2 separate regions of the Homo sapiens genome follow, and region 2 is linked to region 1. The links come from fine-mapping of genetic effects on gene expression. A gene starts in region 1. The other region holds a variant in brackets. All regions are shown on one strand. Distances are from middle to middle. Region 1 holds the start of WDR72 (WD repeat domain 72). Region 2 overlaps WDR72 (WD repeat domain 72).

The links.
Region 2: its variant is fine-mapped to the expression of WDR72 in lung (TOPMed, PIP above 0.99).

Annotation. Positions count from the first base shown.
Region 1 is chr15:53,754,374-53,762,922 of GRCh38, forward strand. It overlaps WDR72 (WD repeat domain 72), which reads right to left and starts at 5,290. Exons shown (of 20, transcript NM_182758.4): 1 at 5,260-5,290.
Region 2 is chr15:53,536,153-53,544,701 of GRCh38, forward strand. All of the region lies in intron 18 of WDR72 (WD repeat domain 72), which reads right to left. All of the region lies in intron 5 of LOC105370826 (a long non-coding RNA gene), which reads left to right. Among named protein-coding and RNA genes, the nearest start is that of WDR72, 220 kb to the right of the region's middle. The variant G/A (reference allele first, on the strand shown) is at 4,497.

The sequences.
Region 1 (8,549 bases):
CACGAAAGGGCTTGCCTGAACCTACAGGCCAACAAAAACCAGGCAATATGTGGCACTATGGCACTTTCTAAAACATCCTGGCCTCTGCTTATTCTAAGAAAAAAAAATCCGTGGCAAAGGGGATCCCTCTTCTCTGCTTGATTTCTACTGACCAAAGAAGTCACTGTCCAGTGATATAAAGAAATTCTGTCCCTAGGGCATAAATAAATATCCAACACCTATAGTTCATGGGTGTATAAGAGCCTGAGAGGCCTGGAATCGATCCAACCCATTTTAACTAGCAAGAAACTACCTGGTAATACCTTGTTTGTATTTCTTGGAGGAGGGACACAAGAAACACTTATTTCATTCCACACAATAATTCACCACAATCAGAGAGAGCACAGCAAGGGCAACACCATCTCCCAGCTGCTGATTACATCAAAGGCTTGCAGCACAAATTCAATTTTATGATGTTAATCTCAGCCTGCCACTCAGAAATTTTCTCTGAGGGATATGATTTTTCTCTGGATTTCATTTTAAGAATGATTTTCTTCATCCACAATCAATAAAGATATGTTTTCATCAAAAGACTCTATCTTGGCAGAATTCAATTGGCTATTTCAACCCCTTTTGGTGACACAATGTTAATTAAAATAGTTTATGTTGCACCTCAACTGGAAAAAGAGGCAGTGAAAATAGGAGCTACTCAGAACACATGTTCTATATACATCAACATGGAAGGCAGAAAATAATTTTCTCCTTCCCCAGGCGACAGCTATTAGCTATTCAAGAGAGTTGCTCTAACTTGGTTTATCTCTGTGATCTCACTGGAAAAAAGAATGAAGTCCTTCCTGTTTATATTTTTTTGTTCAATTGGAAATCAAAATGCATATAAAGAAGATACTTTAAATGCTTACATCCCAGTTCCTCAACAAGAGGAGAAATAATTATCTGTGCTCCTATGTGGCATAACGGATTATTAGGCATCACATTCATTATTTCCCTTAACTAAAAATTAATGATGCTATTACAAATTATTTTTATTTTCAATTTTAAATAATAATTACAGCTAAATACATTGTATTTCTCAAAAGCAGGCATATAGATTCTCAAAAGCGGGCATATAGAATTAGCACAGGGTTTTGCACATTTAAGAAAGAGAAGAAAACTATGCAATGCATCACAGAAAATAAAGCAATTTGTTTTAACAGTGGTTTGGGAAGTGGCAGTTAATTAATTTAACAAAGATTTATAAAGCACCTACTGTGTTCTTGACTCTGTTCTCCTCTTGAGAATGAGATGAAGGCCCCACTTCCTGTCCCATGATGCTGACAGATCATGGGGCCTCCATTACCGCAGAAAGAGAAGGGCTAGGCCTGGTTCCCACAAAGCAGGTAGAGAGCGCAGCAGAGGCTGCACTTAACCCTGCTGGGAGGAGATCAAGAAGAGTTTCTCCAAGGAAGTCCAATTACTGAAACATTCAGCTGGTAATTTACATATCCAGTCTAAAAAAGTGGGGGGCATAGCTCAGTCTCTAATAGAAAAGGTAGTCTCTATCAACCACACCTTCTCACTCCCCCATTCTGAAATTCATTATTCCTCTTAACATAAGAAAGTGGTAACAAAGAAAGTAGGAGTACTGATACCCTAAGGAGAATAAGGATTTCACAGGACTCTGTGTTCTAATCTATACTAAAGCAATCTAAAAATCATATCAGCTTTCTGGGCTAATATGGTTTGGCTTCATCCCCACCCAAATCTCATCTTGCAGTTCCCATAATCCCCACATGTGGTGGGAGGGACCCAGTGGGAGGTAATTGAATCATGAGGATGGTTTCCCCCATGCTGTTCTCGTGATAGTAAGGTCTCGCGAGATCTGATGGTTTCATAAGGGGCTTCCCCCTTTGCTCCGCACTCATTCTCTCTCCTGCAACCCTATGAAGAGGTGACTTCCGCCAGGATTGTAAGTTTCCTGAGGCCTCCCCAGCCACGTGGAAATGTGAGTCAGTTAAACCTCTTTTCTTTATAAATTACCCAGTCTTAGAGCAGTGTCCTTAGAGCAGTATGAGAAAGGACTAATACATGGGCCCTCACAACTCACTGCCGACTCACAAGCAACAAAATGTCAATTAACCAAAAGGTTGACTGGTTCAGTAAATTACATCTCCCTCATCCTGTACTCGCTTATTGTTTTAAACACTTACTGTGTAGGGCTTTACATTTCTCCCAGTTGAATTTCAACTTGTTAAAAAAAAAAGACAGAGAGAGAGAGGAAAAGTCAGTGTCAAAGTAAACAATTGCTACCACTTACTGACTATATGTTAAGTTGTAGACACTGTGCTGCTTAGATTACGTTCACTGCTTCATGCGGTCCTCATAATATCAATATGCATTATTATCACTATTCCAAACATGAAGAAAATGAGTCTTGGAGAACATAAGTAACTTGCCGAAGGTCAGAGCTAGGAAACAAACAGATCCATCAGTCTATGAAAAACTCAATTCTTAATCACTGCACTATGCTGGTTAGGTGGGGCAGAGGTGGTGGTCAGCATGTGAGGACAGCCTCTGGAAATGAGAGCAAATTCTGGAATCAGTGTTCCCCTACAGCAATGATATCTAGCTCTGTAAATGAAAATTTGCATTTTTTAGAAAAGTTCAAAGGGGCCCAAATGTCTTTTCAGACCAAAGATATCTCTCTCATTTTGAAGATAAACGTGACACATGTAAATAAAGAAACTCCTGGGTCCCCAAAGTTGATTAGGAAGAGGTCTTGCAAGGACTTCAAAGCTGACCTGGGCCTAGACCTCAGTGCACAGATAGATACTTTTAGTCCAGGTCTCCACCACATCTGCCTGCTTCCAATTCAGCCTAGAGAAGAACTGAATCTACAAAGCTTAACAACTGGGAAAAAATAACCATACATATAGAAAAGGCCTCCAGAAAGGTACCTTTTATGATGTAGCGATAGAATTATTCCTAAATGGCCAGGCACGGTGGCTCATGCCTGTAATCCCAACACTTTGGGAGGCCGAGGCAGGTGGATCACTAGAGGTCAGGAGTTCGAGACCAGCCTGGTCAACATAGTGAAACCCCACCTCTACTAAAAATACAAAAATTAGCCAGGCATGGTGGCAGGCACCTGTAACCCCAGCTACTGGAGAGGCTGAGGCAGGAGAATCACTTGAGCCCAGGGACCAGAGGGTGCAGTGAGCCGAGATAGTACCACTGCACTCCTACCTGGGAGACAGAGTGAGACTCCATCTCAACAACAACAACAACAACAAAAAATTAAAAATTAAAAAAAAGAATTATTCATAAAGGACATCCTCTATTGTGAGCAACATTATTACTAACATTATTATTATTAAATAACAGAAATTTCGAGTATATGAATTGTCAAGCTACAAAGATATCTGAATGCAACAAACTTGAAATCTTAAAATCTTACTGATACCATTATTTTCAAGGTTCCTTTAAGTTATTTCACAAGTCAAATGCACTCTTCCATTCCAGTAGGCATGTATAAACTAGAACGTCAGATTTCTAAAGCATTCAGTTCATTGGGTAGAGACCGTTAATGGAAGATTTCACACACAGGGAGAAACTTAAGAGTTTATTTTCTCTCTCTCTCTCTCTCTCTCTCTCTCTCTTTTTCTCTTTTGAGACAGGGTCTTTCTCCGTCACCTAGCCTGGAGTACAGTGAAGCATGCAATCATGGCTCACTGCAATCTCGACCTCTCAGGCTCAAGTCATCCAACTCCCTCAGGCTTCCTAGTAGCTGGGATTATGGACTGACGCACACCACCACACCCAGCTGATTTTTGTAGAGATGAAGTTTTGCTATGTTGCCCAGGCTGGTCTGGAACTCCTGAGCTCAAGCGATCCACCTACCTTGGCCTCCCAAAGTGTTTGAATTACAGGCATGAGCCACAGCGCCCAGCCTAGTTAATATTTTCTTGACAAAATACTTATAATTTTAAAATACCTTTTCCAAAAGAAGTGAAAGCTTTGGAACTCAATATAAAATATTAATTTTTAGGTTAAAAAAATCACTTTACTAGACACCTTCAAGGGCAGTTTCCCTTTCTCCTACAGCCTTTTACATTCTTTACAGAAGACTCTATTGGCACATTTTAATATTGAAGGAGTTAAAAAAAGACAAAGGAACAAGTGATGTTTACAAAAAAAAAGCTGCACAAGACCAACTTAACCACAAGTACTTGCATGACAGAAGTGGCCGCTTTCCTTTTCACTGGTTTGTAAGTGGTGAGAGCTGAACAGGGAAGAAAGGAATGGTGTTTTGGCAGTGACAATGGGAAGGGGTGGAGGAAAACACTTCAGGTAAAAAGATCCCCAACAGGTGACCTAGTCTCCAATCGGTGACCTTGAAGTCATTTAACACAAAACTGCGGGGGGGGGGGGGGCGGTGCGGGCGGGGGAAGACAAACGTACCATACACCTACGTTTTGTTTAACAGAACGTCGTTAACTGTATTGAAATGGATACAAAAATGCTATAATAAGTGGGGAAGATGGTATAAGTCAGCACCAGTTTCCAAAAGGAAGTATTCCCAGTGCATCACCTTTTCCAGATTTTGTCAGCACAGACAGTCCCCCCTTTATCTTCCTGCCTCTCATCCAACCTTACAAGGGGCAAAAGTCTTGTCCCCGCAGTCTTTATTGCCGACTCAGCCCAAGCGGCAGAGCAAGGAAAGTTTCGCCAGCCCCCGTCCCCACAGCCCCAAGCTGTCACACCCCAGCAGGCTTAGGCCCACCCGGTCGTTTTCCCTGCCCTTGAACTCAGCTTTAAAATTAATTCGACCTAAAATTAAAGTTTTAAAAATAAATAAATAAATAAAATTAATTCAATCGATTCCGTTCCATAGAAGTCCAATTCCCAAGTTCCAAGAAATTATCCTAATAGGGAAAGGCAGGTCCCTAACCGTATCTGGGGTAGACTCCTCCCAGGAGCATAGGTAGGGATACTGCGAGATGAGCGGCTTTGTTCACTCCTGATGCCACATCTGGAAAAGAGTTTGAAGAGGGACTTTTCCAGTTTCCAAGTGCAAGAACTTAGAGCAAAGGAAGGGGTTAGAGATAGCGCTGCGCACGCCCACCCTCTTTCCCGGCCCAGCTGTATCCAAGCGCGGGCCGTCCCCTCCTGCGCCGTGCTCTGAAGGCGGGAAGGCGTGCGGCTGCACCAGCCAGGGGCAGACGAAGACCACCAGCCTGGGACCCGGCAGCCCGACCTGCGCTCTGGGGGTGCCTGCCTTACCTGAGCCGTGGGGCGGAGGAGCGGCAGAGGCCAGGCAGGCTGGCGGGTCTCGCCCTTAGGGTCACGGGTACCGGCCCCGCCCGCCTCGCCCCGCCCCGCCCCGCCCCGGTCCTGCCCCCGCAGCGCGCGGACCGGGCTAGCTCTGGCCCCAGCCGCCCGCGGGCGGGTGCACCCGCTCTCCCTTCCTGCAACCTGGACCCGCTGCCTCCCTCCCTCCCTCCCTCCTTCTCTCACTTGCGGTGGCGGCTGGAAAAGGCCCGCCAGCAGCCTGCGGTTGCCTGTCCTCTCAGGGCTGGAGAGAATTAGTTAGGGGGGGTTAGATCAAAAGAGCCCAGGTGACGTGAACTCTTGACCCTAGGCATTGGCAGAGATGAGGCCTCAACCTTTTTTTTTTTTTTTTTTAAGTTTTTGGGGATACACAGTAGGTGTATATATTTATGGGGTATATGCCGTATTTTGATACAGACAAACAATGCGTAATAATTACATCAGGGTAAATGAGGTTTCCATCACCTCAGCATTTATCCTTTGTGTTACAAACAATCCAATTATACTCTTTTAGTTATTTTTAACTGCACAATTATATTATTATTGACTATATTCACCCTGTTGTGCCACCAAATAGTAGGTCTTATTCATTCTTTCTGTTTTTTCTACCCATTTACCATTTCCACCTCCACCCGACTCCCCCACCCCCCACTACCCTTCACAGCCTTTGATAACCATCCTCCTACTCTCTATCTTCATAAGTTGAATTGTTTTAATTTTTAGCTCCCACAGATAAGTGGGAACATGTGAAGTTTGTCTTTCGGTGCCTGGGTTATTTCACTTAACATAATGATCTCCAGTTCCATCCATGTTGTTGCAAATGACAGAATCTCTTTCTTTATATGGCTGAATAGTACTCCACCGTGTATATGTACCACATTTTTCTTATCCATTTATCGGTTGATGGACAACTTAGGTTGATTCAAAATCTTGGCTATTGTGAACAGTGCTGCAATAAACACAGGAGTGCAGATATTTCTTTGATATACTGATTTTCTTTCTTTTGGATGTATACCTAGCAATCGGGTTGCTGGATCATATGGTAGTTCTAGTTTTAGTTTTTTGAGAAAGCTCCAAATTATTCTCCGTAGTGGTGGTACTAAAGAGCTTAAACAACTCAATAGGAAAAAATATAATAATTCAGTTTTAAAATGGGCAAAAGGCCAGACACAATGGCTCACATTTGTAATTCCAGCACTTTGAGAGGGCGAGGTGGGCAAATCACTTGAAGTCAGGAGTTCGAGACCAGCCTGGTCAACATGATGAAAACCTGTCTCTACTGAAAATGCAAAAATTAGCTGCTCATGGTGGTGTGTGCCTGTAGTCGATGCTACTCCAGAGACTGAGGCAGGAGAATCACTTGAACCCGAGAGGTGGAGGCTGCAGTGAGCTGAGATCACACCACTGCACTCCAACCTGGGTGTCAGAGTGGGACTCCATCTCTAAATAAATAAATAAATATAAAAATAGGCAAAAGACCCAAAAAGACATTTTTCGAAAGAAGGCATACAAATGACAAATAGGCATATGAAAAGGTGCTCAACATCATTGATCATCAGAGAAATGCAAATCAAAACTACAATGGGATATCATCTTACCCAAATTCAAACGGCTCATATCCAAAAGACAGGCAATAACAAATGCTGGCAAGGATGTGGAGAGAAGGGAACCCTCATACATTGTTGGTGGCAATATAAATAAGTACAACCACTATGGAGAACAGTTTGAAGCTTCCTCAAAAAAATAAAAATAAAACTACCATATGATCCAGCAATTCCTCTGCTGGATATATACACAAAAGAAAAGAAATCAATATATCCAAGATCTTTTGGTAAGGGATGGAAGGACGTTTTCCTCAAGACTGCATAGGCATGGTGGCTCATGCCTGTAATCCCAGCGCTTTAGGAGGCTGAGGTGAATAGATTGCTTGCTCCCAAGAGTTTGAGACCAGCCTGGACAATAGGAGGAGACCCCCATCTCCACAAAAAATACAAAAATTAGCCAGGCGTGGTGGCTGTGCACCTGTAGTACCAGTTCCTCTGGAGGTTGAGTCAGGAGGGTCACTTGAGTCTGTGAGTTGAAGGCTGCAGCTAGCTGTACCACTGCACTCCAGCCTGAGAAACAGAGCATGACTCTGTCAAAAACAAAAACAAAAACCCAAAGCAGAAAACCCACAAAACAAAAAATGCAGCCTCTGAATAGGGAAAAGCCATTAAAAGTATCAAGAGTGGGTGAAAAATTCAACATTGAAACCAGCATCCTAGCCTGTTGTGAATAGACTAAGTACCTAAACTGAATGACTGGGTGGTTTAGTAAAATGTGGGGTGGGGAGACACTGCTTTTTTTTTTAAGGTTTCTCAGTTACATGACTTTACCCTCCAAATCCTATTGGCTCCTTAGTCTTGGATTCTAATACTCCTGGAAGCAGGTTGGGAGAGATTTTAACTCCTCCTTTTTTTCACTGATATCTGGCTTCCCAAATATTAAGGATATTTGGCCAGGCCCAAGTAAGATCACAGGTTTTCCATCTCTTAAACTTCACATATCCTGGGTCTTCCTGCATGCAGTGTTTCCTACTAGAGCACTCCTCTCGCCTTCTGCATCCTTTGGGACTGGTTCATTTCCATTCTGGATTCTCACTTCCCTCCTGCAGGTTAGATGTGCTTGTTACTCACTCCTAATTACCTTGCTTCCTCTGTCATTACACTTGTCACAACTGACTACCATTGCTTGTGCATTGGCCTCCCCTGCTTGACTGTAAGCTCTGTAAAGGCAGGGACACCAAGCACGTAGGAGATACAGAATAAATGTTGTTGAATGATGTGCCTGTGACAGTCAACGGTTAAGGCATTCCCAGCCATCAACTCTTTAATGAATTTCCCTCACCAATCCTTTCCTTCTAAGTCTGCAGGTTCTTATATCAAAGTTAATATCCCCACACATCCCCTCATCCCCAAGCCTTCATCCTACCTCTTGAGCAGAGCCTTCTCCATAGTTTTCATAGTCGCAAATGTAGAAAGAGGTCTAGACCTAGTTGCTCTTGTCTGAGCTCTGCTGTAGCTAGCTTAGTGGTCTTAGAGACCCTCAGCCTCTCTGTGTCTCAGATCAGGGCTGGCTTATCCATTAGGGACGGTGCCCAGGACCCATAATAATTTGGGGGCCCACAAAATGGGGGCAGAGAGAAAAGAACAAAAGAACATTTAAGTCAAAGAAAGTCTTGTAATATATTATTTTAATGTGTT
Region 2 (8,549 bases), 220 kb before region 1:
GGCTGCTCACCATCACCAGGACAAATCAGAGAGCCACCCCCTTTTTCCTTTACCAGTCACCCTCCAAAGGAAAAGAGAAAAGAAAGTATGTCACCATCCCAGTAGCGTGTGCAGCTGTAGAGAAAGCTAATTTGATCATTTACCTTTACTTCTTAAATACTTCGATATTATTCTCAGTAGAACTACAGCTGGTAGTTCTAAGGTTAAGTTGTTGAATGGTTGGATTGGCAAGATGTAGTTAGAAAAAGTGGAAGAGAACTTCAACTTATTTTTTTTACTTTCAACAATGAGTCCCAAAGAGCTGTCTGAAACGCTATGATCATGGGGCTCATCGGTCGACCTCCAAAGAAAGGAAGGGTGCCTTTCTGGTTACTCTCCTACATCTATAAGAGAGCTTGGGGAAATATACAAAAAAGCTGGATATTTATCTAATGAGTAAATGGGTGGATGAATGTATGAACAAACAAGTCACTGTTCTCCAGCTGACGTTTTAGAAGTGTGGTGAACCATTGCACAGTAACATGGTCAGCCTCCAAAGGTGGAGAGAATTGAGATCTTTTAACGGCATTGAAGCTAAAAGTTTTAAACAATGACAATTCACTGAGAAATGTACCAAAGCAGTGACATAGCACATTTAGTACTTATAAGGTTAAACACTGGGCTGCAGTAGCTGCTTGACCGTAAAAAGTAGGATTAAGGCTTTTGCATGAGCCTTGACATGATCCTGTTGTCTGTCTGCTGCCTTAAGCTTTGAAAAACAGCTGGGATCATCTTCTTATAAGCTCCAGCTCAAAGATGTTTAAGCAGTCCCCAATCCAATTAAACAGAGGTAAATAGAAGGAAGAATTGTACTGAGCACCATCATCACCTTTTTTCTTAATGAAAAACAGTGTAATTGCGGGTTACACAGCTCCTTAATCTCACATTAAATCTAATAGATTGCTGACTTATACTGAGCATGACAGTCCCAGCTTTCTATATTGGTGTGCTTAATTTTAGGTCATTATCCTTTATTATGTGACTTGTAATCCTTAAAGCCCATGATTGTGTCTGGATATTTGGCAAGGATTGTATTTGGTAATACAAGGATTCTGCTTCTAAGAGTGATGGTTTAATTGAATGACATTGTATAATTATTAGATGTTCAGAGAATTACATATATTTCTTTCCTTTTTTAATTGGCTGGTTTCTTATAAGTGTTTCCTTCAACAAACATTGTTCAAGATTATTATTGAGTTTTAGGGGCTCTTCTGAAAAGGACAGCTTTCACAAATGAAAGACAAGTAGTTTATTGATATGGAAATGTATCTAAATGCTATTAAAATGCCCAGTTCAAATACAATCCTGGCTCATCTACAAACTGGGAAACCTTGGTCATGTTACTTTACCTTTCTGTCTCTGTTTCTTCATTTATAAAATAGCAATAGTGATGGTGCCTACCAGGGGCAAGAAACTGTTGTTACAATTATATGAGTTAAAACATGTAAAGTGCTCAGCCTAATGGCTCAAATGTAGACAGTCTAAGTAAATTCAGTATTATTATTATTTGTATATCTGTCTTTGTCTAGAAATATGCATAAATGTAAATAAGATGTCCAGCCTTAAGGTCAAGACATTTTATTTTATTTTACTAGCAATGTAGTAATATCTAAAATTTCTCTAACCTAGTAATAGAAGAAATATTTTAAATAGCTATATTATCTTGATCTTCATTGAAGACTGTAGAAATCTACAAGTTATTGTTAGTGGCCCCCTTTTATTTTACCAGTTTAAAGAGGCATGTCCATTTGTATCTATTAACTAAATAAAAACCTGTCCAAAGTCATCTGTAATTCTTTTTTCTTATCAAGAGTGCTGAATATGGAAGGAAGTAAAAGTGACTTCTGACAATGCTGACCAGATAACATAGAACCTCATTGGAAAGTTATTCTAAATAGCTTTTTTAATTTTTTGCTGATAAATTAAATAAAAATTAAATGGAATGGAAATGATGATATGGTGATATACTTTACATATATATTAGCCTTTTAGAGAACTGATTTGGGTTTGGAAATTTAAATTATTGTATGTGCACAATCAAATTTCAGCTTATGGATATGATTAGATCATAACATTTTAAATGAGCAACTATAATCTTTTATATTTCAAAGTAAGAACAGGTCTTGCACCATCACTTGTGCATGGTTCTTGATTGCTGCTTTTTTCCTGGTTTCCATTCACACATTAAGATTTAAGAAATGCTAGTATTGAAACTGAAAGTCTAATGAAGCTCAGCTCCGTCAATGGCAAACACATTAGTGGAGGAGGTCATTTGACGGTGTATACATCTAACACACAGAAATAGTGGTTTACTTGTTATTAACATTCTTCTTTTTCATTTCTAGGGTAGAAAGCACCATAAAACCTCATATAAAATAACATCAAAAAATTCTCTTTTTCTTGAACACCAGGTTAACATTGGGTGATGCGGAATGCATTATTATATCCATTTTAGTTAATTTTAAAGGTGAAAAAATAGACTTATTTTGGTTTATTATAAAAAGTTTTTTGCTGTGTTTTTATCTTGTTTGACCCAATATTTATACTGCTACCCGCCCTGGCTCACCCACCCCTAGACACACAGCAGATCACAGAATGAATCAGATCACTGCATGGTTCTGATCCTTCTATAAAAGCAGCTGAAATAACTGGATCAGAGATTTCATGACTGGTCTCAGTAAGTACATTTAGATATAAGTAGTGCCTTGCTTTTGGTCTTTACAACACATACTCCATGAAACTCATTAATTTGAACTTATAGATAATAGCAATATTCTATATTTGAGCAAATTTCAAAATAGTGATAGAAAAATAAGTGGGTCAAGTTACTCATAAGGGAAAAAAATAAAATTGTCAAAAGATTCTGATGACAACACTTTACCCCAGAAAATAAAGTAACATACTTAAAAATTTAAGAGAAAGAAAAAATTGAACTAAGATTTTCTATCCAGCAAAATTGACTTTTAACTAGAAAGGCTGCAAGTTAATATAAGCATGCAATAACTTAAGAAATATTGTTTAAATATGCCTTTCCTGGGTGACCTACTAAAAATGAGCTTTAGATAACTAGAATAATTGAAAAGCCATCAGCATCAGAATAAGAGGTAAGCACTAAATATACATTTACCTGTAGAACTAAAATCAAATGATGGTTATAGAAATATGGCTGTATTCTCTGACAATTCATAGAACAACTATGAAAAATGCAGGTGATCAGAGGGATATGGAGAGTGCATAAAAAGCAGGATAAGCTGAGTAATTACATAGTAATACATATACTTAGTAGTATATGTATTACCTGAGAGTAAAAGAGTATCATTTCAAATTAGATGCTGGAAGAGAGAAAGTAAAAATGTTAGTAGCAAATTATTTCATTATTGCTAATAGTTGAGGGCTAACTGGCAATGAGAAGAAAGGTAATACGTAAAGGTTTTAGCATAAAGGTAAACATTAGGAAAAAAAAAAACTACCAAATACTCCCTCAATACCTACATACAGAAAGTGAGAGAGAAAGAGAGATTTTGAGGAAAATAAAATGAAATAGATGACATAGTAAAAGAACATATATAGTTTCATATATTTGTGTCTATGTACAAACTTACCATCTTTATCAATAAATGTTAATGGACTTAATTCACCTATTAGAATAAAAGAGATTAAGATTGACTAACAAAGTAAAATCTAACACTATGTTGTTTTTAAAAAGATACATCAAAAACAAAGAGTTAAGCAAGATTAAAGATAAAAGGATAGACAGGATATAAATAAATTTTTAAAAAGCAGTGGTCACAATATTATTGAGCATGGTGGAATGCAAACCAAAGAGCAATAAATAAAGACACAGAGAAGAGTATTTCGTAATACTAAAGACTGCAATTCACAATGGAGGTATTTCAATGACTAATATATGTGTAAGTAATAACACAGCTACTTTAATAAAGCAGAGGCTAAAGAGAATGGAAACTAACGATAGATAATGTTAGCACATATCTCTGAATATAAGACACATAATGGGGACGAAATATTGACAAGAATATAGAAAACCTACAGAACTAAGTCAATAAAGTAGATGTAATAATCAAACTCTAATGCCAATAGTAGACAGTACACCTTGTACTTAAGTGCACATGAAACATTTACCAAAACTGGCCACATCTTATTTTCCGGAGTGACCCCTCCAACATTCCAGGAATGGAACTAGCACAGAAAACTTCTCTGATCACAACGCAATAAGGCTAGAAATTAGATCGTTCCACCTGGAAATTTCAAAACACATTACTAAATAATTCAGCTCAAAAGGGAAATTCAATACAAAACTGTAGAACTTAAAAAAATTGTAATAATGAAGACATAACAATACAGCAAACCAAAGGAAGAAAGAAAAAAAAAAAAAACAAGAGGAAAGAAAGACAATGAATTAGAAAGCAGTAAAAAGAAGAACAGGAGGAGCCAAGATG[G/A]CTGAATACGAACAGCTCCGGTCTACAGCTCCCAGCGTGAGCGACGCAGAAGACGGGTGATTTCTGCACTTCCATCTGAGGTACCGGGTTCATCTCACTAGGGAGTGCCAGACAGTGGGCGCAGGTCAGTGGGTGCGCGCACCGTGCGCGAGCCTAAGCAGGGCGAGGCATTGCCTCACTTGGGAAGCCCAACGGTCAGGGAGTTCCCTTTCCTAGTCAAAGAAAGGGGTGACGGACGCACCTGGAAAATCGGGTCACTCCCACCCGAATATTGAGCTTTTCGGACCGGCTTAAAAAACGGCGCACCACGAGATTGTATCCCGCACCTGGCTCGGAGGGTCCTACGCCCACGGAGTCTCGCTGATTGCTAGCACAGCAGTCTGAGATCAAACTGCAAGGCGGCAGCCAGGCTGGGGGAGGGACGCCCGCCATTGCCCAGGCTTGATTAGGTAAACAAAGCAGCCGGGAAGCTAGAACTGGGTGGAGCCCACCACAGCTCAAGGTGGCCTGCCTGCCTCTGTAGGCTCCACCTCTGGGGGCAGGGCACAGACAAACAAAAAGACAGCAGTAACCTCTGCAGACTTAAATGTCCCTATCTAACAGCTTTGAAGAGAGCAGTGGTTCTCCCAGTACGCAGCTGGAGATCTGAGAACGGGCAGACTGCCTCCTCAAGTGGGTCCCTGACCCCTGACCCCCGAGCAGCCTAACTGGGAGGCACCCCCCAGCAGGGGCACACTGATACCTCACAAGGCAAGGTATTCCAACAGACCTGCAGCTGAGGGTCCTGTCTGTTAGAAGGAAAACTAACAAACAGAAAGGACATCCACAGCAAAAACTCATCTGTACCTCACCATCATCAAAGAGCAAAAGTAGATAAAACCACAAAGATGGGGAAAAAACAGAACAGAAAAACTGGATACTCTAAAACGCAGAGCGCCTCTCCTCCTCCAAAGGAACGCAGTTCCTCACCAGCAACGGAACAAAGCTGGATGGAGAATGACTTTGACGAGCTGAGAGAAGAAGGCTTCAGATGATCAAATTACTCTGAGCTATGGGAGGACATTCAAACCAAAGGCAAAGAAGTTGAAAACTTTGAAAAAAATTTAGAAGAATGTATAACTAGAATAACCAATACAGAGAAGTGCTTAAAGGAGCTGATGGAGCTGAAAACCAAGGCTCGAGAACTACGTGAAGAATGCAGAAGCCTCAGGAGCCGATGCGATCAACTGGAAGAAAGGGTATCAGCGATGGAAGATGAAATGAATGAAATGAAGTGAGAAGGGAAGTTTAGAGAAAAAAGAATAAAAAGAAATGAGCAAAGCCTCCAAGAAATATGGGACTATGTGAAAAGACCAAATCTACGTCTGATTGGTGTACCTGAAAGTGATGGGGAGAATGGAACCAAGTTGGAAAACACTCTGCAGGATATTATCCAGGAGAACTTCCCCAATCTAGCAAGGCAGGCCAACGTTCAGAATCAGGAAATACAGAGAACGCCACAAAGATACTCCTCGAGAAGAGCAACTCCAAGACACATAATTGTCAGATTCACCAAAGTTGAAATGAAGGAAAAAATGTTAAGGGCAGCCAGAGAGAAAGGTCGGGTTACCCTCAAAGGGAAGCCCATCAGACTAACAGCGGATCTCTCGGCAGAAACCCTACAAGCCAGAAGAGAGTGGGGGCCAATATTCAACATTCTTAAAGAAAAGAATTTTCAACCCAGAATTTCATATCCAGCCAAACTAAGCTTCATAAGTGAAGGAGAAATAAAATACTTTACAGACAAGCAAATGCTGAGAGATTTTGTCACCACCAGGCCTGCCCTAAAAGAGCTCCTGAAGGAAGCGCTAAACATGGAAAGGAACAACCGGTACCAGTCGCTGCAAAATCATGCCAAAATGTAAAGACCATCGAGACTAGGAAGAAACTGCATCAACTAACGAGCAAAATCACCAGCTAACATCATAATGACAGGATCAAATTCACACATAACAATATTAACTTTAAATGTAAATGGACTAAATGCTCCAATTAAAAGACACAGACTGGCAAATTGGATAAAGAGTCAAGACCCATCAGTGTGCTGTATTCAGGAAACCCATCTCACGTGCAGAGACACACATAGGCTCAAAATAAAAGGATGGAGGAAGATCTACCAAGCAAATGGAAAACAAAAAAAGGCAGGGGTTGCAATCCTAGTCTCTGATAAAACAGACTTTAAACCAACAAAGATCAAAAGAGACAAAGAAGGCCATTACATAATGGTAAAGGGATCAATTCAACAAGAAGAGCTAACTATCCTAAATATATATGCACTCAACACAGGAGCACCCAGATTCGTAAAGCAAGTCCTGAGTGACCTACAAAGAGACTTAGACTCCCACACATTAATAATGGGAGACTTTAACACCCCACTGTCAACATTAGACAGATCAACGAGACAGAAAGTCAACAAGGATACCCAGGAATTGAACTCAGCTCTGCACCAAGCGGACCTAATAGACATCTACAGAACTCTCCACCCCAAATCAACAGAATATACATTTTTTTCAGCACCACACCACACCTATTCCAAAATTGACCACATACTTGGAAGTAAAGCTCTCCTCAGCAAATGTAAAAGAACAGAGATTATAACAAACTATCTCTCAGACCACAGTGCAATGAAACTAGAACTCAGGATTAAGAATCTCACTCAAAACCGCTCAACTACATGGAAACTGAACAACCTGCTCCTGAATGACTTCTGGGTACATAAGAAAATGAAGGTAGAAAGGAAGATGTTCTTTGAAACCAACGAGAACAAAGACACAACATACCAGAATCTCTGGGACGCATTCAAAGCAGTGTGTAGAGGGAAATTTATAGCACTAAATGCCCACAAGAGAAAGCAGGAAAGATCCAAAATTGACACCCTAACATCACAATTAAAAGAACTAGAAAAGCAAGAGCAAACACATTCAAAAGCTAGCAGAAGGCAAGAAATAACTAAAATCAGAGCAGAACTGAAGGAAATAGAGACACAAAAAACCGTTCAAAAAATTAATGAATCCAGGAGCTGTTTTCTGAAAAGATCAACAAAATTGATAGACCGCTAGCAAGACTAATAAAGAAAAAAAGAGAGAAGAATCTAATAGACGCAATAAAAAATGATAAAGGGGATGTCACCACCGATCCCACAGAAATACAAACTACCATCAGAGTACTACAAACACCTCTACAAACTACAAACACCTCTACGCAAATAAACTAGAAAATCTAGAAGAAATGGATAAATTCCTTGACACATACACTCTCCCAAGACTGAACCAGGAAGAAGTTGAATCTCTGAATAGACCAATAACAGGAGCTGAAATTGTGGCAATAATCAATAGTTTACCAACCAAAAAGAGTCCAGGACCAGATGGATTCACAGCCGAATTCTACCAGAGGTACAAGGAGGAACTGGTACCATTCCTTCTGAAACTATTCCAATCAATAGAAAAAGAGGGAATCCTCCCTAACTCATTTTATGAGGCCAGCATCATTCTGATACCAAAGCCGGACAGAGACACAACCAAAAAAGAGAATTTTAGACCAATATCCTTGATGAACATTGATGCAAAAATCCTCAATAAAATACTGGCAAAACGAATCCAGCAGCACATCAAAAAGCTTATCCACCATGATCAAGTGGGCTTCATCCCTGGGATGCAAGGCTGGTTCAATATACGCAAATCAATAAATGTAATCCAGCATATAAACAGAGCCAAAGACAAAAACCACATGATTATCTCAATAGATGCAGAAAAGGCCTTTGACAAAATTCAACAACCCTTCATGCTAAAAACTCTCAATAAATTAGGTATTGATGGGACGTATTTCAAAATAATAAGAGCTATCTATGACAAACCCACAGCCGATATCATACTGAATGGGCAAAAACTGGAAGCATTCCCTTTGAAAAGTGGCACAAGACAGGGATGCCCTCTCTCACCACTCCTATTCAACATAGTGTTGGAAGTTCTGGCCAGGGCAATTAGGCAGGAGAAGGAAATAAAGGGTATTCAATTA